4 linked regions of the Homo sapiens genome follow. The protein of the gene in region 4 interacts with the protein of the main gene of each other region in a pairwise test. Each region holds a gene or a part of one and is shown on either strand. Other genes may lie near its edges.

Region 1 (7,499 bases), on a different chromosome or scaffold from region 4:
GATCTTGGCTCACTGCAATCTCCACCTCCCGGGTTCAAGTGATTCCTCTGCCTCAGCCTCCCGAGTAGCTGGGACTACAGGCGTGCACCACCACGCCCAGCTAATTTTTGTGTTTTTAGTACAGACGGGGTTTCACCATGTTGGTCAGGTTGGTCTCGAACTCCTGACCTTGTGATCTGCCCACCTCGGCCTCCCAAAGTGCTGGGATTACAGGCCTGAGCCACCGCGCCCAGCCCTCTAGTTGTGTCTTTTAATGACAGATGTGCACTCTGTTGGGTACACGCGTGCCTGGGAGTGGAATTGCTGGTTCATGGGATAGACCATGTTTAGCTTTCATGGACGTTGCCAGACCCTTTCCAAAGTTCGAGTGCCATTCTGCATCCAACAGTGTAAGGAAGCAGCAGCTGCTCCACATCCTTCCTCCACTGGGAGTTGTCAGTCCTTTTCATTTTTGCCACCTTGGTGGGGCAGTGAATCCATTTCCCTCGAGGCAGCCTTCCTAACACAGCTCAGGGAGGCAAGTCAGAGGAGGGGCTGGGGCCAGGCCTGGGCCTGCCTGCCTCCCAATGCCAGTGTCTGTGGCCAGGATGCTGAGAGTGAGTGTGAGTGGGTGAGTGTGCAAGTGCATGTACACACCCACTGCACAAGACAATGGATGAGGGAGAAACTCCCGAATCTGAGGGGGAAAGGCAGTTGGAGGGCAGGGGCCATGTGCGCTGGGCACCCCTGGTGACCCCAGAGTACAGCCTGGTCCTGGTAGGGGCTACATGAGCCCAGACCTCTCCTAGGAAACCCACACATACTGTTTAATTTTTCTGGTGCAGGGGAAGAGACGCTCCCATAGACAGGTGGGGAGACTGAGGCCCAGAGACGGGAGGGCTTTCCTTGAGGTCACACAGCAGGGACAGTGACCCACATTTCTGGCTGAATGTGCTAAGGTCTTCCTGCTTTCCCAGCACCGCTTCCTTGGGGATCCCAGGAGGGAGGGAGGAGTCCTCAGGCTGGAGGCACCCATCTTTTTCTTTTTTTTTTTTTTTTTTTTGAGATAGGGTCTCGTACAGTGGCACAGTCTCAGCTCACTGCAACCTCTGCCTCCTGGGTTCAAGCGATTCTCTTGACTCAGCCTCCTGAGTAGCTGGGATTACAGGCGTGCACCATCACGCCGAGCTAATTTTTTTTTGTATGTTTAGTAAAGATGGGGTTTCACCATGTTGGGCAGGCTGGTCTCGAACTCCTGGCCTTAAGTGATCCGCCCATCTTGGCCTCCCAAAGTGCTGAGATTACAGGCGTGAGCCACACCTGGCCTGGGACTCACAATCTTCTCAGGTGCCCCCTCATCTCCCAGCACACCAACCCCCTACCCCCCTAATTCAGGGCCCATCTGCCAAAGGCCCCTTCCCTCAGGGACCCCATTTCTCACCATCTCATGATGTCTCTGCCTCAGGCCCTCCTCTCCCACATTACCCCTGTGTCCAGGTCCCATCTCCTGAAATTCCCTTATTCAAAGTCCCCCCCCACCCTCCCACTCCTAGGACCCCTCCTGCAATGTCCTTGCCCCTCAGACTCCACTGTCCCCCTCCCCGTCTCTTGCCATGGCCTGCGCTGTTCGACACCTCCAGGCCTCTGCCTCTATGTTCTCTGCTCAGAACAAAGACCAGTGGGTTTTGGAATGAAATTGCTTTCATTCAGTTCCTATAAGGAAACCCAACAGCTCTCATAACAAAAGTCCATCCTGAATCTCCTACGGCCTGCCACCAAAGAGGCAGCTGGAGCTCTGTCCCAATTCTATTCCCCAAGCTCTGTCTTTCGGTGGAGGTTCTTCCAAGGGCTACCTCTGCTGCTTTGGCCCTTTGAATTCAGATGCTGCTCCCCTATTCCTGCTCGGGGCTAATTGTGCTATTGCACTCCTCCTTTGGTGTTTTCTGTTTTGTTTTGTTTTGTTTTTTTCTGAGACAGGGTCTCATTCTGTCGCCCAGGCTGGAGTGCGATAGCACACTCTTGGCTCACTGCAACCTCCGCCTCCTGGGTTCAAGTGATTCTCCTGCCTCAGCCTCCCGAGTAGCTGGGATTACAGGCATGTGTATTTTTTTTTTTAGTAGAGATGGGCTTTTGCCATGTTGGCCAGGCTGGTGTTGAACTCCTGACCTCAAGTGATCCACCCTCCTGAGCCTCCCATAAGTGCTGGGATTACAGGACCACGCCCAGCCCCGCAGTCCTCCTTTGATTTTCAAGTTTGAATCCTATTTAGAAAACCTGATTCCAGGCCAGGTGTGATGGGTCACGCCTGTAATCCCAGCACTTTGGGAGGCTGAGGTGGGCAGATCACGAGGTCAGAGTTTGAGACCAGCCTGACCAACATGGTGAAACCCCGTCTCTATTAAAAATACACAAATTAGCTGGGCATGGTGGTGCACACCTGTAATCCCAGCTACTCAGGAGGCTGAGGCAGGAGAATCGCTTGAACCCGAGAGGCGGAGGTTGCAGTGAGTAGACATTGTGCCACTGTACTCCAGCCTGAGCAACAGAGTGAAACTCCATCTCAAAAAAAAAAAAAAAAAAAAAGGAAACCTGATTCCACTAAAAGCCTGGGGGTGACAAAGAGGAAATAAACAGTAACTAGCCAATCTGATCTTCAAAGTGTAACTCTTCCATCTTCAGTGTGGGGCCCTTGCAAAGGGCTTCCCTGCCTATTGCGCCACCAGCCCCTCAGACAGGGCCATCTTCCTCCCACCTCCTGGGAACACCTTCCAGCAGGCCTCAAAGCACAAACCCTAAACTGCTGTAGATCTTGGAAGACAAGAGCTGGGCCTAAAAGAGTCACTTGGGGCCAGGCGCAGTGGCTCACACCTGTAATCCCAGCACTTTGGGAGGCCGAGGCGGGCAAATCACAAAGTCAGGAGTTCGAGACCAGCCTGGCCAACATGGTGAAACCCCATCTTTACTAAAAATACAAAAAATTAGCTGGGCATAGTGGCGGGCGCCTGTAATCCCAGCTACTCGGGAGGCTGAGGCAGGAGAATCGCTTGAACCCAGGAGGAGGTGGAGGTTGCAGTGAGCCAAGATTGTGCCACTGCACTCCAGCCCTGGCGACAGAGTGAGACTCCGTCTCAAAAAAAAAAAAAAGTCACTTGAACCTGGGCATGGTGGCTCACACCTGTAATCCCAATACTTGGGAAGGCCAGGCAGAAGGATCGCTTGAGTCCAGGAGTTTGAGACCTACTGGGCCAACACAGCAAAATCCCTTATCTACTTAAAAAAATTTTCAAAAAAAAAAAGGTCACCTGGTTATCCCATATAGATATTTTCCTTCCAGCCCCACCCAGCTGCTTTGGAAAATTAGGATCCCAGTCTGCTTAAGGGAGCCCAGGCTTCCCTATACTTCCACACACATTTCTTGAGGCCCTGTTCTGGTTCACCCCATTAGAATTCAATTAGAATTCCAGCCCTGTGGGCCAGGCACAATGGCTCACGCCTGTAATCCCAGCACTTTGAGAGGCTGAGACAGGAAGATCACGAGGTCAGGAGTACGAGACCAGCCTGGCCAACATGGTGAAACCCCGTCTCTACTAAAAAAATACAAAAATTAGCTGGGCGTGGTGGCGGGCGCCTGTAATCCCAGCTACTCTGGAGGCTGAGGCAGGAGAATCGCTTGAACCCAGGAGGCAGAGGTTGCAGTGAGCCGAGATTGCGCCATTGCACTCCAGCCTGGGCAACAAGAGCGAGACTCCATTTCAAAAAAGCCCACAAAACTTCTCAACCTTTTGTCTTTCCCAACTTCACTCCCTTCTCTCCAAAGGTGTGTGTGGCGGGGTCGGAGGTGTCCCTAGCCCCAACTCATTCATCTTTGGGACTCCACAAGGTGGGGCAGGGGGCAACCTCAGATACCCCTCCAGCAACCATGGCCCCCTCACTAGCCTCAATCTCTTGAGGAAGGAATCAATTCCCACAAATTATCTAAATCTTTCTACTCAAAATGTAGTCCATGGACCAGGGGCATCAGCATCACCTGGGAACTCAGAAATGGAAATTATGGGCTCCACCCCAGACTTGCTGAATGAAAACATCTGGGCTAGGGCCCAGGAATCTGTTTTAGCAAGCCCTCCAGGTGTTTTTTTATGCCCTCTAGAGTCAGAAGGACAGCTCTGCACGGTCCCCATTGTGCCTTCCCTGGGAGAGTACACAACGCCCGCTTCTGCCGTTAGAGTTCCCATAACGCCCTCGCTCCTGACAGCCCACATGCACCCTCCTGAAACTACAACTCCTATAATACCCAGAGGCGCGCGCCGTCACTTTCTGGGATTATATCTCCCAAGGTGTTTTGCGAGTCAGACCGCCATCATAGCGCCCATCCTCTTAGTCACCGTCAGGACTACAACTCCCACAATACTCGGCGGCAGAACTACAGTCCCCAGCTGCTCCGGGGCTGCGCCACGTCGACTCCGCTGGGTGGGGCCGGCGTCGGGCGGGGCCGGCGGGGTCTTCAGGGTACCGGGCTGGTTACAGCAGCTCTACCCCTCACGACGCAGACATGGCAGCGCAGAAGGACCAGCAGAAAGATGCCGAGGCGGAAGGGCTGAGCGGCACGTGAGCGAGCTGGCTCTAGGCCCTCGGACCAGAGACCCGGGAGTCCGGGCCCCCGGCCCCCTCCTCCCTCCTCCCTCGAGAGCCTGGAGTCCCAGCCCCGAGCCGCAGAAGTGTTGGCCCCGGTCTCCTCTAATGGGACCCTGGAGTCTGGGCCCCTAGTCCCCTCCCTGCCTGCTGTACAGGAATCTGGGGTCCCGGGAGGGAGTCCAGGCACCCTTAGTCCCCTTCTTTTGCGGGGGTCTGGGGCTCCATCCCGGTCCACCACTGACCCGGCCCCACCCCCCGCAGGACCCTGCTGCCGAAGCTGATTCCCTCCGGTGCAGGCCGGGAGTGGCTGGAGCGGCGCCGCGCGACCATCCGGCCCTGGAGCACCTTCGTGGACCAGCAGCGCTTCTCACGGCCCCGCAACCTGGGAGAGCTGTGCCAGCGCCTCGTACGCAACGTGGAGTACTACCAGAGCAACTATGTGTTCGTGTTCCTGGGCCTCATCCTGTACTGTGTGTGAGTGCCTCCCGGGCCCCGCACCCGCACTAGCCCCGACCGGCTGGACCCCTCCTCTCGCCGCTCAGGCCCCGCCCTTCACCGCCCGGTCCCTCCTCTCACCGCCCAGGGCCCTCTTCTCACCGCCCAGGCCCCGCCCCCAAGGATTGGCTCTGCTAGACTACCTTGTCACCAAAGGGCCAGGTCCCCTACCCCACCATCACCCTGGCCAGGATGCAGTGTGACTAAATGTCACCTGGCCCTCCCTGGTCTCCAGGATGTAGCTTGCCGCCCGCCGGTGGAGAAGGCCAGGGCCGTCGGGCTGGCCCAGCCCCAGCTGTCTAACCGCTGCCTCCCTGCACTCCTCCTCCAGGGTGACGTCCCCTATGTTGCTGGTGGCTCTGGCTGTCTTTTTCGGCGCCTGTTACATTCTCTATCTGCGCACCTTGGAGTCCAAGCTTGTGCTCTTTGGTGAGAAACCCCCTGCCCAGATGAATCCTTGGTCCCTCAAATCTTGGTCTTTTGGAATGCAGACAGACCTCAGACCCCAAATCCAAGTCCTTCAAAACCCAAGTCCGCCCAAGCCTAGATGTACACTAGATCCCCCAAACCTGATCCCTTAAAATCTCAGACACAACCGATCCTTCCATCGAGTCTCAGCCCCCTCAAATTGCTATTCCTCAAACCCAGGATCCACCTGGCTGCTGTGCCTTAAACCTACTCCTTTTCAAACCACATGACTCCTCCCCTCTCTCTCCTCCCCTTGCCGCTCTCTGCGGCCAACATCAGCTGCAGGTGCCCACACTGGACACCAGGTGGCCACCTTACACTGGCCTAGATCTGTTCCCGTTTCTTTTCCTGCTTTCTGGGGTGTGACCAGAAAGAACTTGGAACTTAGAGAGGGAAGCCGAGGAGTATGTTTCATGTGGTTCCCAGACTAGTAGTACCAAGGACCACTGGGAAAACAAAATGCCAGGGGAAATTCCCCCCAGGGGAAAATCAAGGTTTGGAGTGGGGTCAGGGAGTTGGGATTGGACAGTTAGGTAGACCTGAAGGCCAGGCTCTTCAGGGGCCTGCAAGTTATGTGCTTGATGGGCTGGGGTGGAGGGAGTGCCTGAAGCACAGGCACGACTTGGCTTCAGCTGATCACCGTCACCAGAGCATGTAGACCCCATCCCTGAGACTTCTATGAGAAGCCTGAAGTTGGTATTTTTATGTGAAATCGTTCACTTTGCCAGCCACAAATCACATCCTTGCAAAACAGCTCAAAAAACACATCCACAGGTCAGATTTGGCCCTTGGGCCACCAGTTTGAGACCCTGGTCTGCGCGAGGGTTGCAGCAGGAGAGCCCTAGTCTAGGGAGCAGGAAGCCGGGATCCCAGGAACTTCCTGGAGGATGTGGGGCAGAGGGCAGAGGGTGGGGCTGAGGCAGGCGAGGACGGTGTGCTGTGTTCTGGAGGGCAGTGGGGACAGCAGGGGAACAGGGTGACCCCAGGACCTGGAGGGCCTTGGCATGAGGAGTTTGGATTCGATCCCGAGAACCTGGAGCTTGTACGGATTGTTGGGGGGCAGCAGGGGTTACTCTGGGAGAGGGCATGGAGAGTCGGAACAGCACCCCAATGCCATCTGCCCCCAGGCCGAGAGGTGAGCCCAGCGCATCAGTATGCTCTGGCTGGAGGCATCTCCTTCCCCTTCTTCTGGCTGGCTGGTGCGGGCTCGGCCGTCTTCTGGGTGCTGGGTGAGTACAGGGTCTGAGCAGCTGGGGTGGATGGTGGGAGCCAGGTGCAGGAGTGTGGCCCTGAGCTGCCGGCTTTCCTGCAGGAGCCACCCTGGTGGTCATCGGCTCCCACGCTGCCTTCCACCAGATTGAGGCTGTGGACGGGGAGGAGCTGCAGATGGAACCCGTGTGAGGTGTCTTCTGGGACCTGCCGGCCTCCCGGGCCAGCTGCCCCACCCCTGCCCATGCCTGTCCTGCACGGCTCTGCTGCTCGGGCCCACAGCGCCGTCCCATCACAAGCCCGGGGAGGGATCCCGCCTTTGAAAATAAAGCTGTTATGGGTGTCATTCAGGAAATATTCCCCCAGCATCTTCTGTGGGTCTCTATGGGTGGAGCTGGGAATACTGCACAGAGCAGGGTTGGGGTGGAACCTGGGGTGTGGGCAAGACGATGACAAGGTAAACAGGTAAAATATTATGGGATGCCCAATGGTGGTGAGTGTTCAGGAGGAGAAAAGAGTTGAGAAGGACAGTGTGCCGGGGGTCCCCGAGACCACCCCCAGGTTTGATGGTTCTTTAGGACTCAGGAATCAGAGAGCACCCCAGGTTTGATGGTTCTCTGGGACTGGGGACTCAGTATGCAATTGCACTCACAGCTCTGATTTACTCTCATCAAAGGGTATGGAGCCAAGTCAGCCAAAAGGAAAGGTGCATGGAG
Region 2 (7,148 bases), on a different chromosome or scaffold from region 4:
CAGTCAGAACTGGTGTCTCCTATTGGATCGTGCAGAAGGAGGACCTAGGCACACACATATGGTGGCCACACCCAGGAGGGTTGATTGGCAGGCTGGAAGACAAAAGTCTCCCAATAAAGGCACTTTTACCTCAAAGAGGGGGTGGGAGTTGGTCTGCTGGGAATGTTGTTGTTGGGGTGGGGAGGAGTTATTTCAATGGAGGAGTTATTTGCAGATTGCAGAGAGAAATGAGGGAAGTTCGCCTACACCGGGCCATCTGCGGGGTCTGCAGGTGAGGAAAAGAGAGAAAGCATTGGCTGAATCTATATGCCCATTTTTTAAAACAAGATCCAAAGTCCATGAACATTTTACACACAAGAATACCGAAGCTTATGGTACCTATTGGTACAAAAGCCCTAAGTACCAATACGAGACCAGAGTTGGCATTCGTGCCTTTAAGAGATCCCTTTCCTTTTTCCCTCTGCCCTCTCAGCAACCCCCTTACCCCCAACCAACACACACACACACTTACCAGTGGGGGCTGCTGTATGTCTTGGCTGCCGAACGGGGAAGGTGACATAGGCATCATAGCCAAAGAGGCACGTAGCGATTAGGCCCAGTACCTGGGGGACAGGATAGGAGTGAGGGGGTTTAGATTAGCTGGTCAGGTTACTCAGTCTCTTATCTTCTTGTATCCACCACCTCCAGCACCTGCCCCACGCAGGATGGGACTCAAGCACCGGGTTGGTAAGCCAGGGAAAGGCCAAGAGAGTGCATCCTACCCCACTCTCCCTCCTCCTATACCTCTCAACACAGGGAGGCCACACTGTGGCCCTACCCGTAGGGGGCACAATTCAAGTCATACTTTTTTTTTTTTTGAGACACAGTATCACTCTGTCACCCATCTGTCACTGGGGCTGGAGTGAGTGGCATGATCTTGGCTCACTGCAACCTTTGTCTTCTGGGTTCAAGTGATTCTCCTGCCTCAGCCTCCTGAGTAGCTGGGACTATAGGCGCCCACCACCATGCCCGGCTGATTTTTGTATTTTTAGTGGAGATGGGGTTTCGCCATGTTGGCCAGGCTGGTCTTGAACTCCTGACCTCAAGTGATCTGCCTGCCTCGGCCTCAGCCTCCCAAAGTGCTGGGAATACAGGCATGAGCCACTGCGCCCGGCCCCAATTTCTACTACATTTGGGACAAAGTTCTTGCAGATGGTAGTCTAGTGCATTGACAAAGGGGCCGCCTGTTTGTACCTCTCACCAAGGTCCTTGTGTCTGACAAGGGACTTCCCTTCACAGCAAATGAAGACCTTGGGAGGCAAAACCAAGTCCTGGGCCAGACTTTCCTCCATGTCTGAGGACAAGTGTGACTTGCTGTGGGTCACACGATTTCTGCCAGAAGCAAAGGCAGAAATGGTCCCTGGCTCCTCAAACCCTTCGCTCTGTGCTTCAGAGCTGCTCCCATGGCCTTTACCCCTGCGACGATTTTGGAGTGGTTTCCTCTCTCAACAAGGACAACAATGGAGGTGATCAGGTAGAGGATTGCCGCTATGAGGGTTCGGAAGAAATCCTGTGAGGTGTAGGGAGGAGAAGAGGGAAGTCAGCAACCACAGTTCCCCGACAATCCTAACTGCCCAGACCCCTCCCTGGTCTTGCCATTGTGGACCCCTTCTCACACTCCAGGGCCAGTTGATGAATGGTATCTTGGTGTGCAGGTCACACATGTAGACAACAAAGAAAATAGCAGCAAGGATCATCTCAATCACCGACAGGGAGGAGTAGCCTGGTGTGGAGGCACTGAAGCAGATCAGGATCACCAGGCATAATATCTGGAAGGGTGACATGGGAAAGGGGACCTCAATCAGCAACCAGGGCTGAGAAGATTGGTTTAAATTGGGGGTCCCATACTAAGATGCCTACGAGGGCTGGGGAAATGACATACAATAATAGCTAAACACTTTTTATGTGCTCACTGTGTTCCAAATTCAATCATCACGACAATCTAATGCTCTGGGTACTATTATTACTCTTTCTAATTTATAGACGAGAAAACTGAGGCACAGAGAGGTTTAATGGCTTGGCCAGGGTCACCCAACAAGTAAGGAGTAGAGTTGGGTGCCTCAGTTTCCTCTTTTCCCTTCTAGGTTACGGGCAGCCTGAGGGGAGTGGCGCTGCCAGGTGTTTTGTGAGCCCCGCTGACGCCAGCTTTGTGGCCTTGACCGGGGCGGAACACGCGGTTCCCCCAGCAACCCCTTTGGGAAGCGGTGAGAGTGACACCAGAGAGGCAGGACTCCGTTAAAGGCGCCGCACCCCTTTTACAAGTGACTCAAAGGCGGCGCCCACTTTGAGAAGGGTGGAAACCCCGAAAAGCTAAGGACATCCCGCCCGGCCTCTGAAGGGCGAGGAAGAACTGGCGAAGGGCGGGGCGCTCTACACCGCGGGACTAGCGCGGGGCGGGGGGGCCCCACCCCAACAGGCCCTGCCCCTGGGCGCGCTGCCAGCCCGCCCTCCTGTGCCCAGGCCGCGCCACGCCCTGCCACAGGAGGCCCCCACTTCCCAGCACCCTGGGACCCCTTCGATGCGTCCACTGATGAGTTCACGCAGGCTGTCCCCACGTAGCCCTCCGTATGCGTTATAGGCTCCTTGCTTCACCCCGGGGACCACCAGATCTCAACAACCTTCGTCAAACCCCACCGACTCGCCCTGCGCCCCGGGTTTCGGGCCTCCACCGTGAACCCACCCACCTGCACCCCACTGCCGAGCGCCCCGGCCAAGTGCCTGCCTCACCCGGACCATCCAGTTCCGCATGGTCCAGCCACCCCATCCCGCTTTTGCCCACGCGCCTGCCCCAGAACGCTCACAATCTCAGCAAACAGGAGGATTCCCTTTCGAGTGCGCGAGAAGTTGGTGCAGGCGGCCCAGCAGCCAGGAGCCGAGAGGCGCTCAGAATCCGCCATGGCATGGGCTGGAGTCCCTGGTGCCTCGGAGGATCTGCTCACTTGCTCGTGGTTTCGAGGACGCTGTACACCCAGCTGTCTTGCCCGCCGTCTGGCCGGGAAGGGGGCCCCGGGGCGAAGGAGGGAGTGAATCACCGCGCAGAGCTGACGCGGGCGGGGCCGGAGCCGGGCCAGGTGGCTGCCGCCCCGGAAGCCCCCTCGCCCCGCCCCCCAAGGATACTCCCAGCCTGGCGCACAGCCCCCGGGGCGCCCCATCGCAGGGGTGCTTGGCAGCTCCAGGTACCAGGAGCAGTAATAGCGGGACCCTTCGCCTTTTTGGAATGCAAATGCACCCGAGACAGCTTCAGCTTAGAACCGCGGGAATCTGGCTTTGGGATGGAGTGACTCAGTTTCCTTAACTGAATAAAACGGCCGAGGCAGAGTTAAATCCGAAAGACTTGGGGCCCAGTATGTTGCCAGAATTCGGAATATTTTTGATTTCAGAAAGTTTTCCCATGCATATACTCTCAGCGGGGTTTGGAGCTGCCGCGTTACAAAAAAAAAAAAAAAGGGCCAGGCGCGGTGGCTCACGCCTGTAATCCCAACACTGGGAGGCCGAGGCGGGTGGATCACCTGAGGTCGGGAGTTCGAGACCAGCCTGACCAACATGGAGAAACACCGTCTCTACTAAAAATACAAAAATTAGCTGGGCACGGTGACGCATGCCTGTAATCCCAGCTACTCGGAAGGCTGAGGCAGGAGAATCGCTTGAACCCGGGAGGCAGAGGTTGCGGTGAGCCAAGATCATGCCATTGCACTCCAGTCTGGGCAACAAGAGCGAAACTACGTCTCAAAAACAACAACAACAACAAAAACGGTATTTCTTCAAGAAAAGGTATGAACGTTCACAATAACTGGGTAAGGATTGAAAAGTGTTCCTCGGCTGGGCGCAGTGGCTCATGCCAGTAATCCCAACACTCTGGGAGCCTCAGGTGGGAGGATCGCTTGAGCCCAAGAGTTGGAGATCAACCTCGGCAACACAGTGAGACCTCATCTCTACAAATAATTTTAAAAATTAGCCCAGGCGGCCGGACGCGGTGGCTCAAGCCTATAATCCCAGCAGTTTGGGAGGCCGAGGTGGGCAGATCACGAGGTCAGGAGTTCGAGACCAGCCTGTCCAACATGGTGAAACCCCGTCTCTACTAAAAATACACAAAAAATGAACCGGGTGTGGTGGCGCTCGCCTATAATCCCAGCTAGTCAGGAGGCTGAGGCAGGAGAATCGCTTGAACCTGGGAGGTGGAGGTTGTAGTGAGCCAAGATTGCGCCACTGCACTCCAGCCTGGGCGACAGAGCAAGACTCCGTCTCAAAAAAAAAAAAAAAAAAGAAAAAAGAAAAAAATTAGCCCAGGCATGGTGGCACGTGCCTGTAATCCCAACTACTCGGGAGGCTGAGGTGGGAGGATTGCTTGAGCCTGGGAGTTCAAGGCTGCAGTGAACCATGATCAGACCACTGCACTCCTGCCTGGGCAACAGAGCAAGACCCTGTCTCCAAAAAAGGAAAAACAAAAAGAAAGGAAGAAAGAAAATTGTTCCTCGTTAGATCAGGTCAGGTTTTGTAACCAAATAGTGCCTATCTTGTGGGAAAACCATCAGTTTCCAGAGCTTTTTGTTTTTGGATAATGGATTGTGGACAGTGGAATAAACCTCTGAGCAGTGATGAGAATAAGACCCTGCCAGTGTAAAGGCTGTGTGAGAATAGGGGTTGGTGAGCATTGAGTTGCTCAGAAATAGGGCAAGCATTGTTTCAAGTGTTAGAGCCCAAGGCCAGGAGCAGTGGCTCATGCCTGTAATCCTAGCACTTTGGGAGGCCGAGGTAGGAGAATCACTTCAGCTCAAGAGTTCGAGACCAGCCTGGGCAACGTAGTGAGAGCTTGTCTCTATTTTAAAAAAACATATTTTGTAGTAGTGTTAGAGCCCAGAGAGCCCAAGGTCTGATTCTGTGTTCTGCAATCCCAAGGAAGTCCTGGCCCTAAATGTTGGGCCTCAGTTTCCTGGTTCTGAAGAGAGGGGCCAGTCAGCACAATCGTACATGAGGAATAGGAAAGTTTATTTCTGGGGGATTGGCAAGATGAATGGATGGCTCCTGGGGTGCAAGGCTGGGTGACATTTGTAGACACTTTGTTTGTATTTATTTATTTTTTAGTAGAGACAAGGTCTCGTTATGTTGCTCAGGCTGGTCTTGAACTCCTGACCTCAAGCAATTCTCCCGCCTTGGCCTCCCAAAGTGCTGAGATTACAGGCGTGAGCCACTGCGCCTGGCTAAGTGTGTTATTTTGAGCAAGTAATTTCCCCCAGCTCAGCCTTAATTTCTGCATCTAAGACATGCATCTCGTCTCCTGGAATCAGGATCCCAGAGGTACCCTGAGGGACACACTCTCCAGACTAGAAGTTGTTTTTATTCTCATCTCATTTGAAGTGGGGGAGAATCATAACTGGATGGCCAGGAGGATTCAACCCAAGGGCCTGCCTGCTCTCTCTGCCAACACAGGGCCCCTCAAAACTAAGGAAAGAGCTCCCCTCTTTCAGCCCCGGTTGCCGGAAGAGTGAGTGAATAGTGGAAGGGATGAAACATACTTTTCCTAGTGATGAGTATGTGCTTTCCAACTCTGTGAGGACACGTCTGAATTTCTGAAACAAGATGAACCTGGTTCCACTTCAACACCTTTGCACTTGCTATTCCCCCTGCTGTCAATGCCCTTCACTCAGTGCTTCATATACCTGGCTTCTGGTCATTCAGGTTGCAGCTCAAGAGTTATGTCTTCAAAGAGGCCAGAAGCTCACCATCATCTCCCACAATGTAACCTCCTTTTGCTAGCTTCATAGCTTCATGACTCTCACTTCTCTCTGAAATTGTCTTTTTTTTTTTTTTTTTTTTTTGAGAAGGAGTTTTGCTCTTGTTGCCCAGGCTGGAGTACAATGGCACAATCTTGGCTCACCGCAACCTCCACCTCCCGGGTTCAAGCGATTCTTCTGTCTCAGCCTCCTGAGTAGCTGAGATTACAGGCATGTGCCACCACACCAGGCTAATTTTGTATTTTTAGTAGAGATGGGGTTTCTCCATATTGGTCAGACTGGTCTCGAACTCCTGACCTCAGGTGATCCGCCTGCCTTGGCCTCCCAAAGTGTTGGGATTACAGATGTAAGCCACGAGCCTGGCCTTTTTTTTTTTTTTTTTTTTTTTTTTGAGATAAGGTCTCACTGTCACTCCAGCTAGAGTGGAATGGTGCAATCATGGCTCACTGCAGCCTTGACCTCCCAGGCTCAAGTGATCCTCCCACCTCAGTGTCCCAAGTAGTTGGGACTACAGGCATGAGCCACCACTCCCAGCTAATTTTTAAACTTTTTGTAGAGACAAGGTCTATGTTGCCCAGGCTGGTATCAAACTTGTAGGCTCAAACAATCCACCCGCCTCCGCCTCCCAAAGTACTGGGATTACAGGCACAAACCACCATGTCTGGCCTGAAGTTTTTTTTTTTTTTTTTTTTTTTTTTGAGACTGATTCTCGCTCTGTCACCCAGGCTGGAGTGCAGTGGTGCGATCTTGGCTCGCTGCAACCTCCACCTCCTGGGTTCAAGCAATTCTCTGCCTCAGCCTCCCGAGTAGCTGTGATTACAGGCACCTGCTACCACACCTGGCTAATTTTTGTATTTTCAGTAGAGACGGGGTTTCACCATCTTGGCCAGGCTGCTCTTGAACTCTTGACCTCGTGATCCACCAGCCTCGGCCTCCCAAAGTGCTGGGATTACAGGCGTGAGCCACCACGCCTGGCCTGGTTTTTTATTTATTCATTTTCTCGTCTTTTTTGTCTGACATCTGTCTACTCTCATTACATACATCAGCTACACAAAGAAATTTTATGTCTTGTTCCTCCAGCATCTCCACAGTACCTAGCACAGTGCAACATATACAGTTGGGGTTCAATTAATACTTGTCAATGCAGGTGAAATTGAGAGGACAGACTTGGGAATCAGGCCTTGATTAAATCGTGCTTTGACCCTCCTCTCTGTAGCTATCTGCACTCCCTGGGCCTCACTTTCCTCCTCTGCGAAATGGACATATTCGGATAGTTGAGTAGATGTGCAACTATTGTAGATGAAAATAAATATTGCAATAAAGCCAGTAGCAGGGATAAAACTAAGTACATGGTGGCTGGGGTTACTATTATTAGTC
Region 3 (4,734 bases), on a different chromosome or scaffold from region 4:
TGAAACCCCATCTCTACCAAAAATACAAACCAGCCAGGTGTGGTGGCGGGCGCCTGTCGTCCCAGCTACTAGGGAGGCTGAGGCGGGAGGATGGCTTGAACCTCGGAGGCAGAGGTTGCAGTGAGCCAAGATCTGCCATTGCACTTCAGCCTGGGCAACAGTGAGACCCTGTCTCAACAAAAAAAAAAAAAAAAAAAAAAAAAAAAAAAAAAAGCCAGGAGTTGTGACTTATGCCTGTAATCCCAGCCCTTTGGGAGGCTGAGGTGGGCAGATCACCTGAGACCAGGAGTTTGAGACCAGCCTGGGCAACATGCCAAAACGCTGTCTCTAATAAAAACACAAAAATTAGTTGGCCACGGTGGTGCACACCTGTACTCCCAGCTACTCGGGAGGCTGAGGCACAAGAGTCACTTGAACCCGGGAGGCGGAGGTTGCTGTAAGCTGAGATGAAAACGGACATTGTCTTTGCTCTTTGTGCTTCTTTGGCTTTGCCAGTACTAAAGCTGTGCCTTACAGACCGGGTTTCTCTTCCAGGGATGTGTCTTGGTGAGCTAGTCATTAACCCCCACCAGCAGCACATGGATGCATTCTATTGGGTGATTGACTGGGAAGGGATGATCTCTGTCTCTAGCCTGGTGGGACTTCTTGAAAAGCACTTCTTCCCCAAGTGGCTTCAGGTACACTTTGTTTTGCTTGGATTTCTGGGGGAGGGAACTGGGTGGGGATTAAGTTAATTTTCTGCCAAGGCCTGACTGTAGGTACAATTCCATAATGAAAATAAATTACATGGTAGGGTAGGAATGAGTTAGGTCATCTTCATAGTGGGCACCATTTATTGGACATTTGCCATGTATCAGAAGCTGTTCCAAGCACTTTATTTGCTTTATCTCAGCTCCTCTCAGCAACCCTATGGGGTAGGGGATATGGTATCCCTGTTGTGTAGACATGGAAGCTGAGGCTCAGAGAGTTTACATGCAAGGGCACTTTAGCTACCAGGCTGACTCCAAAATCCATATTCATAAGTGCTAGACTGTTTAGCTACTATAAATCCCTGTAAAGTAGTGTCACTAGCCTGTAGGACCAGGATCAAAACAAAACAAATGGCCACTTCAGAAATCTTGCCTTCATTTGTTGCCACGATGGATGCAAGTAATTTTTCTTTTTGGCAGGTGCTGTGCTCTTGGCTCAGTAACAGCCCAAATTATGAGGAGATCACCAAGTGGTACCTGGGTTGGAAGTCGATGTTCTCAGACCAAGTGCTGGCACATCCATCTGTCAAGGACAAATTTAATGAGGCACTTGATATCATGAACCGGGCGGTGTCCTCCAACGTTGGTAAGTGAGGATTCCCATTTTGGATGTCCTGGCCCCAAGTTTCAGATTTTACACATGTAAATGACACAGAATCAGAGTTTTCTGGTTCCTGTAGGCAGCCTAAACCTTAGGTCACACTTTTGCACATAGCAACAGACTCTCACCCTGCTGACTGGGGTACATGGTCAGCTGGCACCCACTGCCCAGGTCTACCATGACTGAGAGGGGCATCTTCCCTGAGTGGAGACTGACTTAAGCTGGATTCAGATGATGTCAGTCTAACCCCAGGCCCCGCCCTCTTAACCACTGTGCTGTGTGGCCTTTTAAGGCTCATTCATGCCTGAGCATGCTGCTTAGGTGACGCATCTTACAGTGTGGAGTTTGGCACGCGGTCTGACACTTGGTGATTGCTCAGCCTTAATCAGCCCCATTTTACCTGTTAAACAGTAAGATCTACTTTATAGGCTAAAAGGGAGAGTGAGTTCATGCTTGTGTATAGCCTTCAATAGGTGGTGTCTGTGTTGTCAAAAACAGGCAGTTCACTGTTCGTGTACTATATCTGTTCCCAAGTTCTAGGTAAGTCATTCTGCCTAGATCATAAGTAAGTGAGAGTATATTTATGTTTCTACATTTGGGAGCCTATTTCAACCAGTCCTGTGCTCCAGTGTTGCTCATTAGCCGATTCGCAGCATTGAAATGGGATCGTCTAGTCTGTGTTTTACAGATAAGCCCAGCGAGGCTGAGAGCCTGTTCAAGGTCACATAGTTAAAGGGTGGCAGTTAGAACTGGAATTTCTATTTCCTGAGTCTTTAATTCTTGTTATTTAATAGCCTAGGCCAGGCACGGTGGCTCACGCCTGTAATCCTAGCACTTTGGGAGGCCGAGGCGGGTAGATCACGAGGTCAGGAGTTCGAGACCAGCCTGACCAACATGGTGAAACCCCGTCTCTACTAAAAATGCAAAAATTAGCCGGGCGCGGTGGCACATGCCTGTAATGCCAGCTACTTAGGAGGCTGAGGCAGAAGAATCGCTTAAACCTGGGAGGCAGAGGTTGTAGTGAGCCGAGATTGCAAGCACTGCACTCCAGCCTAGGTGACAAGAGCGAGACTCGGTCTCAAAAAAAAAAAAAGAAAAATAGCCTATTCTGTGAAAACAGAGATTAAGTAATAAGGCAAATATACTTCTCTGCTTCTGTAATTATCAAGTTTTTTCTAAAAACTCTTCCTTAGCTACCCTTGGCCTCATGTTTCCAAAACTGTTCCCTGAATATACCCCTCAATTAGCACTTAGCATTTATGGTCTTGGTATTATCCTTTAAACACTCATTTCAGCTCCCTAAATATATGTGAACTTCTTTCAGGATGGGGGCCCTGTGTGGGTAGGTTAAAAATAAAGCCAGTATGGGCCCTATGTTTTCAAGGTACTAAAAGCTGCCTCTTTGGTGGTGGGAAATGGAAACTCTACAGAGCAAGGTGGGAACAGAAGAGTGGCTGAGGACTCTCTGTTAATGTTTCCAGCTCTGAAGGAAGAAATCCCTTGCAGATACTTCATTTTAAAATGTTGAATATTAATAATCTGGTTACTAGATACTAGCCAGGAACCTTCTGAACAGTTTTTATGTGATACTGGCCAGTCGTCTAAACTTCCTCCAAAGTTGTATCTTTGAGGCAGAGCTGCCCTTCAGTGAGTCACAAGCACTCTGGCACACCCAAGACCTGGGCCAAGCCACAGTGTCAACTTCCATACACCTGGAAACACCTCTCCTCACCGCCCTGTCCTCCTGTATCTTAGGTGCCTACATGCAGCCAGGAGCACGGGAGAACATTGCCTATCTCACCCACACGGAGCGGAGGAAGGACTTCCAGTACGAGGCCATGCAGGAGAGGCGGGAGGCTGAGAACATGGCTCAGAGGGGCATTGGCGTGGCCGCTAGCTCTGTGCCCATGAACTTTAAGGACCTCATTGAGACCAAGGCTGAGGAGCACAACATTGTCTTCATGCCCGTCATTGGGAAGCGACACGAAGGGAAGCAGCTCTACACCTTTGGCCGCATTGTGATCTACATCGACCGGGGAGTGGTCTTTGTCCAGGGCGAGAAGACGTGGGTGCCCACCTCACTGCAGAGCCTGATCGACATGGCCAAGTGAACTGTGGCAGGTCCAGAACCAGTCAGAGACTTGCCCCTAAGAGGGATGTACTGTAAATAAACAGTATTTTTAGATCACCTTCAAAAGGGTAACTTCTTTACTCAGGAGCTACTCCACATCAGGCCAGGTCATGAGGGAAGGATGTAAAATGGGACAATGCCACGTAGGGCAGGAATCTTTATACCAAGTCCTCATGTGGGGTATCGTCCTCAAAACAGGACAGCCAAGTTGATGTTCTTTCCTGGCAAAGGAGTTCTCTGTAGTTCCTCCATAGCAGCCTTCCCTTTAGTCTCTGGTGGCAGCTTCTACCTCAGCCAACACTGAGTACCTCACAACGAGTTCAGTCAGTAGCAGAAGGATCTTCTCTCTTGTTCCTGATGATTTCAAGGTCCTCACAGTCCTGATAATCTGGTTCTTCCCGAAACTCCCAAATATCTATGGAGAGCTGTTCTAGCTTTTGCACAGGGAACCAGTGGACAGAGGTATCATTAAATATGTCCATGTATTGTGAAGTCTGAGGAAACTCAAGCTCCTCCAGTCCTTTTAAAATCTGAGCAGAAAAATTCAAGTATAAAAACTTCAGATAGTCACAGTAATCCCCACTCTTCTGGGATAAATTTCCACTTTACTTGTCATCCCCACTTTACTTTTTAAAAAAATAACAAATAGGGTATTTTGATTTAAATGCTTTTGCACAATGAATTGGGCGCCCCAAGGACAGTGGATATCATGGACTGTGATACTAAGAATAAAGGAAATAAGGAAAAAACTAAGAGATGCATTAAAGAGTCATAGCTTTCTGGAACACAGACCCATGGAGAGAGCTGACAGTACACTAGCGCCACTTAGCCCATGAGTTTCCTCCTACGCCTGTAAAGAAAGATAGAATTCTTCACAGTTTCACACCCTTTTCCATCCCAGCCCCTTTATTCAGATAGATACCTTTGCAATGTAGGGATAATTTTTCTGCAGAATCCTTGCCAACAACCTAGAAATTAAAAAAAACCAAAAAAACAAAAAAAAAACACCATGATTAGGAGGTATGAGGATAGTTTCATTCAACTTTTAAGACACATAGAAGGGCAAGATGATTGAAGCATAGTAAGAATTCAGGAAAAAACTCAAGATGTGGAGTAAACCAGTTAAATAGTTGAAAATGTGGGCCAGGCGCAGGTAATCCCAGCACTTCAGGAGACTGAGGCGGGCGGATCATTTGAGGTCAGGAGTTCAAGACCAGCATGGCCAACATGGTAAAACCCCATCTCTACTAAAA
Region 4 (7,000 bases):
GTTTCTAATAATGCAATACTAGGAAATGTCTCCATTAAGAAGTATTTAGATGATATAGAAGTATTTCAAGTCTGTCCAGGTAGAAAATATTCCAGAATTAAGTATATGTGCTAGTTGCTTTCAATTAAAAGTTATAATCAGCTTAGAGAAAGCCTATAGTTAAAATGGCTTAGTTTTTTTTTGTTTTTTGTTTTTTTGTTTTTTGTTTTGTTTTGTTTTGTTTTGTTTTGTTTTTGAGACAGACTCTCACTCTGTCACCCAGGCTGGAGTGCAGTCTTGGCTCACTGCAACCTCCGCCTCCTGGGTTCAAGCGATTCTCCTGCCTCGCCTCCCGAGTATTTGGGATTACAGGCGGCCACTGCCATGCCTGGCTAATTTTTTTTGTATTTTTAGTAGAGATGGGGTTTCGCCATGTTGGTCAGGCTGGTCTTGAACTCCTCACCTCAGGTGATCCACCTGCCTCAGCCTCCCAAACTGCTGGGATTACAGGTGTGAGCCGCCGCGCCTGGCAAAATTTTTTAACATATTAATTTTTTTGTTTGTTTTTTTGAGATTGAGTCTCACTCTGTCGCCCAGGCTGGAGTGCAGTGGCACAATCTTGGCTCACCGCAACCTCTGCCTCCCGGGTTCAAGTGATTCTCCTGCCTCACCCTCCTGAGTAGCTGGGACTACGGGCGTGCGCCACCACGCCAGGCTAATTTTTGTATTTTTAGTAGAGACAGGGTTTCACTACCTTGGCTAGGCTGGTCTTGAACTCCTGACCTCGTGATCCACCTGCCTCAGCCTCCCAAAATGCTGGGATTACAGGCGTGAGCCACTGTGCCTGGCCTTAACATATTAATATTTAAGATAAAATGGATATGCAAAGAATTTTCTTTATTTCACTATATATATCTGTGCACACTAATTTTCAGTATAAGACTGGCTGATGATTTTCTTGGTACTTTAAAGCAACTTATGATTTTAACACACTTCTCTAAAATTACCATCTTAGCTTTGAGAAGAGAGACCATTATCACAATGTCAAGGTTGTAAATCAAGTTTAGTGTTAGAATGTCTACATCTGCTGTCTCCTCGGGGTTCAGCTTAGTACGTCTCCAAGGTCACAGTTGAGTCTACTGAGGGCTCTGTGTTCCTGAGGGAGCAGATCTCGAGGGCCACCAAGGAAGAGTTCCATTGAGTTTAGAATCCCCTGTTCCTTGCCAGTCCAGAGAACTCCCTCTAAAACGACAGTTCAGAGTCAGCCCGGGAGTTAGGTCTCACGAATCTCACCTCGTGTTAGCCGTGCTAGGATCAAGGCTTGCTCTTGAGGTAGAGGAAGTGGTACAAAGCAAATATTTGAATCCTTCCTGGTGGAATTTCCTCACTTGGCAATAAGAATCTGCAACAGGGAACTATAATTTCAGTTTCCTGTTATGACATAGCACAGATGCCTGAGCAAAGAGGGGCAGCCTTTTAGTTGAGGATGTTCAGCTAGGCCAAAGCTCACAGATGCCAGGGTTAGAAGGATGGCCCCCTTCATTCTCCTTAGAATGTAGTTATTCGTTCAATCAACAGATAATGCCTGCTGTGTGCCAAGCACTGATCTAAGCTTTGGGGACACAGTGGTAACACAGTCATAGATGAGGAAACAAACTCCAAAAGGATCAAGACTTATCTAAGATCACAGAGCTATGAAAACCAGAAGTCACTAAGCTCACAACAAAAGACTACACATTTTTTCCTAAGGGCAAATGTTTCATTTTGTTGTTAGTTATAGTGCCTTCAAGTTTACATTATAGATCTTTCTGAGGACATTGTGTAACTTTTAATCACGTCCATATGAGTGGCAAATTTGCCTGTATTTTGTATTAAGAACTACATGTAGGCGGGGCACGGTGGCTCATGCCTGTAATCCCAGCACTTTGGGAGGCTGAGGCGGGTGGATCATGAGGTCAGGAGCTCAAGGCCAGCCTGGCCAAGATGGTGAAACCCCGTCTCTACTAAAAATACAAAAAATTAGCCGGGCGCAGTGGCAGGTGCCTGTAATCCCAGCTACTCAGGAGGCTGAGGCAGGAGAATCGCTTGAACTTGGAGGGTGGAGGTTGCAGTGAGCTGAGATCACGCCACTGCACTCCAGCCTGGGTGACAGAGTGAGACTCTGTCTCAAAAAAAAAAAAAAAGGGAACTACATGTGAATTTCTGGTTATGTGCTATTACAGTTAGATTTATGGTGTATTGCGAATTTATCAGGAAGCAGGCTTAACTTAAACTTCTTTCTCTAGGCTGGGTGTGGTAGCTCATACCCGTAATCCCAGCACTTTGGGAGGCAAGATGGGAGGATTGCTTGAGCCTAGGAATTCGAGACCAGTGCAGGCAACACAGGGAGGCCCCCATCTCTACAAAACCAAAAAATTCACCTGACGTGGTGGTGTGTGCCCATTGTCTCAGCTACTTAGGAGGCTGAGGTTGGGATAATCACTTGAGCCTCAGAGGTTAAGGCTGTGGTGAGCTGTGATTGTGCCATTGAACTGCAGCCTGGACAACAGAGCAAGACTGTCTCAAAAATTAAAAAAGTAAAAAAACATCAACTCCTTTCTCTAGCGTGGACTATCCCTATAATCAGACAGGAGCATCTTTATTAAAGGGATTCTTAAGGTAATGTCAAAAGATAACTGATGGTACTGCAGTTGAGAACTAAGACAGGAAGTATGGTGTCAGAAAAGGCTGTCTCACATCTGGTCCTAGCATTGCCATGTGATCTTGGGTAAGTCATTTAAATTTTCTAGACCAGATTCCTTTTCTGGAAGAACTAAGGGTGTTGGAATAATTTCTGTAAGAGCTCTTCTGGTGGCCGGGCATGGTGGCTCACGCCTGTAATCCCAACACTTTAGGAGGCTGAGGTGGGTGGATCACCTGAGGTCAGGAGTTCGAGACCAGCCTGGCCAACATGGTGAACCCCCATCCCTACTAAAAATACAAAAATTAGTTGGGCGTGGTGGCGGGCACCTGTAATCCCAGATACTCGGGAGGCTGAGGCAGGAGAATCACTTGAACTGCAGGAGGTAGAGGATGCAGTGAGCTGAGATCACGCCACTGCACTCCAGCCTGGGCAACAAGACTGAGACTGTCTCAAAAAAAAAAAAAAAAGAGTGCTTCTGATTCTGTGATTGTAGTATTTCACCAAATTGTTTTCTGTAGTTGGACTATATACTGACAAAATAGCCAGTTTCCTTGGCTTTCTTCTTTAAAATATTGTTGGTATAGCTAGATGAGACTCTACATTTAGTTCTGATGTAAACATGAATTCTTGACGTGAAATATCACATGCTTTTATTTCAGGATTAACCTCCATTTCAGCTAATCATGGGAGAGATTAAAGTCTCTCCTGATTATAACTGGTTTAGAGGTACAGTTCCCCTTAAAAAGGTATGTATGGTTTTACTATACCTCTTATTTGCAAAATCTTGTATTGTTTTTGTGTGTGATTTAGATGTCATGTCTTAGTAGTGTTTGAGAGTAAAGGTTACTGCCGAGTATCATGACTGTGGGTTGCAGAGGATTAAGTTCACTCCTTCCCTGTCATGTACAGTCAACTTTTGAGACTCATTTTAGAGTGAAAGCAAGTGTAACTGTACTCATTTTTATTTATTTATTTATTTATATTTATTTTTGAGATGGAGTCTCGCTCTGCCGTCCAGGCTGGAGTGCAGTGCACTGCATGATCTCGGCTCACTGCAACCTCTGCTTCCCAGGTTCAAGAGATTCTCCTGCCTCAACCTGCCAAGTAGCTAGGATTACAGGCATGCGCTACCACACTCAGCTAATTTTTGTATTTTTAGTAGAGGCAGAGTTTCACCATGTTGGCCAGGCTGGTCTCGAACTCCTGACCACAAGTGATCCGCCCACCTTGGCCTCCCAAAGTGCTGGGATTACAGGCGTGAGCCACCGCACCCAGCCTGTACTCATTTTTTATAATTGCTTTTACATATACAAGCAAGCAGGTATGTATGTACTCTTCTGTATAGTTTAGTGGAAAGTTTACAGCAACTGTATAGTGAGTACAGTCAGATTATATTCCTGTTCCTCAGATTTAAGAATGGGGTCACATTATAGAGCTTCTGTTTGCAATGACATACTCATTCTGCCACAGTCATCTTCTAGAAGCTTTATTTTCCTGGGATGTTTGAAAACCCAAAACACTTATATTGCAGTTGAGTATTGACTCTGCTTCCCAAATTAATCCCAGATGTTTGGGGATCACACTAGACAAAGGCAGTTCAAGTCACTGAGTAGAGTAAAACCTTTGCTGATTCCCTTGCAGGAGTGTTAGAATCCAGTGATCTTAAGATCTTTTGCAGCTGTTTGTGATGGCTCATGCCTGTAATCCTAGCACTTTAGAGACCTAGGAGGATCATTTGAGGCCAGGAGTTTGAGACCAGCCTGGGCAACATAGCGAAACTCTGTCTCTATAAAAAAATGAAAAAATTAGCCAGGCATGGTGCTGTGCACCTGTAATCCCAGCACTTTGGAAGGCCGAGGCAGGAAGATTGCTTGAGCCTAGGAATTTGAGATCAGCCTGGGCAATATGATGAGACCCTTTCTCTACAAAAACTAGAAAAAATTAACTGGGCGTGTTGGTGCACGCCTGTAGTCCCGGACACTCAGGAGGCTGAGATGGGAGGATTGCTTAAGCCCAGGAAGACAAGCTTGCAGTAAGCTGTGATCGTGCCACTGCACTCCAGCCTGGGTGACAGAGCCAGACCTTGTCTCAAAAAAAAAAAAAAAAAAAAGAAAAGAAAAGAAAAAATGTGAGTGGCAAGATACACAGGACAAAAACATGAGCGTGAGATACATTATCACCATCTGTGACCTGTGGAAGTCCAAAGGGAACTGTTAGGCCTCTCTGGACTTTGCCTTGCTCCATTTATCTGCTCCTAGTGATGCCAGTGACCCTGGTTAGTGTGCTGCCACCCACAGAGTGACACTGTGGAGTCCATAGCCCTGCTAGTGAGGAGCTCTCAGAAAAAAGAGCCTGGAGGCCTTGAGTTTTTTAATATGAAAGTAGAATAAATACTGATTTGCATTGTCAAATGTTTAAGCAGTTAATGTACTTTTCTAAATACCACCAAAAGTGAAAGCAAAAATTAAACTAGGATGCCGTGAATAATAATAATAGCTAATATTTCTAGGACACTTAACATCTGCCAGACTCTGCTGAGCACTTGTCTTACCTCAGCTTGCCTTTTTTTTTTTTAAGAGACAGGATCTCTCCCTCTGTTGCTCAGGCTGGAGTGTTGTTGTATTTTTATTTATTTATTTATGTATTTTAAAGAGACAGGATCCAGGCCGGGCGCAGTGGCTCACGCCTGTAATCCCAGCACTTTGGGAGGCCAAGGCGGGTGGATCATGAGCTCAGGAGTTCGAGACCAGCCTGACCAATATGGTGAAACCCCGTCTCTACTAAAAATACAAAAAATTAGCTGGGCATGAGGGTGTGTGCCTATAATCCCAGCTACTTGGGAGGCTGAGGCAGGAGAATCGCTTGAACCTGGGAGGCAGAGGTTGTAGTGAGCCAAGATCGTGCCACTGCACTCCAGCCTGGGCTACAGAGCGAGACTCTGTCTCAAAAAAAAAAAAAAAAAAGGAGGAGGGGGAAGAAACAGAGAAGCAGCAGCCCTTTGGAAGATTATAAAGTAGTTCTAAGTAGTTCTGTGGAATACGTTAGCCCTGAGGAAAGAAAAGGAGATCAGAGGAGTTTGTCATGCATGCTAATCTGGTGTGAGCTCCAGGTTACCTTGTAACAAACAAGGCAGTAGTAGTAAAATTGTCAGTGAAATGACAGTGTAAAATAACATAAAAAGCAAATTTATAAGGTTTTCCACTTTTTTCTTTTAACCTTCCCTCCAGATTATTGTGGATGATGATGACAGTAAGATATGGTCGCTCTATGACGCGGGCCCCCGAAGTATCAGGTGTCCTCTCATATTCCTGCCCCCTGTCAGTGGAACTGCAGATGTCTTTTTCCGGCAGATTTTGGCTCTGACTGGATGGGGTTACCGGGTTATCGCTGTAAGTATTACTGATTAAAATTCAGACCCACGTTTTGTGTGTTTTTTTTTTTTTATGCTTCTGTCTCTCATCAGCTATAGTAATGGGCACAGTTTGTTTGTTTGTTTGTTTGTTTGTTTGTTTGTTGAGATGGATTCTCACTCTGTCGCCCGGGCTGGAGTGCAGTGGCGTGATCTCTGCTCACTGCAACCTCCGTCTCCCGGGTTCAAGCGATTCTCCTGCCTCAGCCTCCCGAGTAGCTGGGATTACAGGCGCCCGCCACTACGCCCAGCTAATTTTTTGTATTTTTAGTAGAGACGGGGTTTCGCCGTGTTGGCCAGGCTGGTCTCGAACTCCTGACCTCATGATTCATCCACCTCAGCCTCGCAAAGTGCTGAGATTACAGCCACGAGCCACTGCGCCCAGCCAGGCAGTTTTTTTAATTGAGGAAAGATACTGTTTGCTTATTTTAATATGTGAGATGAAGCCTTTTGAAGGAGGCTGGTGTGAGTCCACGGTCACACAGAGATTCAGAGGGAACAAACCTCTTTTGGCAGCCTCTCCATGCCCAGCATTTACGTGCATTCTCTCCTGACGCCCTTCTCTCAACTCAGAGCGGTAGGAAGCGTTGTCCTTCTTTACAGATGAAGAAACTGAGGTCCGGCTCACACAGCCAGTAGTGGTGGAGGGAGGAACTGAGCTCCGTCTCCTGGCTCTGTTTCTGCTCCTCATTTTATCACAGCACTGCTTCCAGGGTTGCTGAGCATGGAATATTAGACAACAAAGGGATTTGCTAACATACAAGTGACTTGAAAAGCTGGCTTTTCATGTAAATCTTTGATATTTGAGGTGAGATTCATTAATTAGCTCATATGTTAGCATTTGGTTAGGAAGTTTTTTTGTTCCTGATTGTTACTTTATAGCTGAGTTTGGTCTAAATCCAGTTTCCCACTGATCATTCTTGAGTCTT

Evidence for each region.
Region 1: the proteins of SPG21 (region 4) and RABAC1 interact in binary tests that used the Homo sapiens proteins (3 or more experiments, as listed by UniProt).
Region 2: the proteins of SPG21 (region 4) and PLP2 interact in binary tests that used the Homo sapiens proteins (3 or more experiments, as listed by UniProt).
Region 3: the proteins of SPG21 (region 4) and TFIP11 interact in binary tests that used the Homo sapiens proteins (3 or more experiments, as listed by UniProt).

What each region holds. Positions count from the first base shown.
Region 1 is NC_000019.10:41,956,322-41,963,820, reverse strand, and holds RABAC1 (prenylated Rab acceptor protein 1), read left to right. Parts: upstream 1-4,499; 5' UTR 4,500-4,528; coding exon 4,529-4,584; intron 4,585-4,872; coding exon 4,873-5,085; intron 5,086-5,437; coding exon 5,438-5,535; intron 5,536-6,701; coding exon 6,702-6,803; intron 6,804-6,886; coding exon 6,887-6,975; 3' UTR 6,976-7,138; downstream 7,139-7,499. UniProt on the Homo sapiens protein: General Rab protein regulator required for vesicle formation from the Golgi complex. May control vesicle docking and fusion by mediating the action of Rab GTPases to the SNARE complexes.
Region 2 is NC_000023.11:49,167,789-49,174,936, reverse strand, and holds the start of PLP2 (proteolipid protein 2), read right to left. Parts: upstream 3,040-7,148; 5' UTR 2,937-3,039; coding exon 2,841-2,936; intron 1,809-2,840; coding exon 1,656-1,808; intron 1,550-1,655; coding exon 1,454-1,549; intron 603-1,453; coding exon 512-602; intron 266-511; coding exon 243-265; 3' UTR 1-242. UniProt on the Homo sapiens protein: May play a role in cell differentiation in the intestinal epithelium.
Region 3 is NC_000022.11:26,490,740-26,495,473, reverse strand, and holds the end of TFIP11 (tuftelin-interacting protein 11), read left to right. Parts: intron 1-534; coding exon 535-677; intron 678-815; exon of another isoform or gene 816-1,169; coding exon 1,170-1,335; exon of another isoform or gene 1,336-3,105; coding exon 3,106-3,461; 3' UTR 3,462-3,801; coding exon of another isoform or gene 3,802-4,011; 3' UTR 4,012-4,234; downstream 4,235-4,734. Other genes in the region: SRRD (SRR1-like protein), read right to left, coding at 3,802-4,011, 4,404-4,449. UniProt on the Homo sapiens protein: Involved in pre-mRNA splicing, specifically in spliceosome disassembly during late-stage splicing events. Intron turnover seems to proceed through reactions in two lariat-intron associated complexes termed Intron Large (IL) and Intron Small (IS).
Region 4 is NC_000015.10:64,979,915-64,986,914, reverse strand, and holds part of SPG21 (maspardin), read left to right. Parts: intron 1-3,321; 5' UTR 3,322-3,345; coding exon 3,346-3,408; intron 3,409-5,889; coding exon 5,890-6,051; intron 6,052-7,000. UniProt on the Homo sapiens protein: May play a role as a negative regulatory factor in CD4-dependent T-cell activation.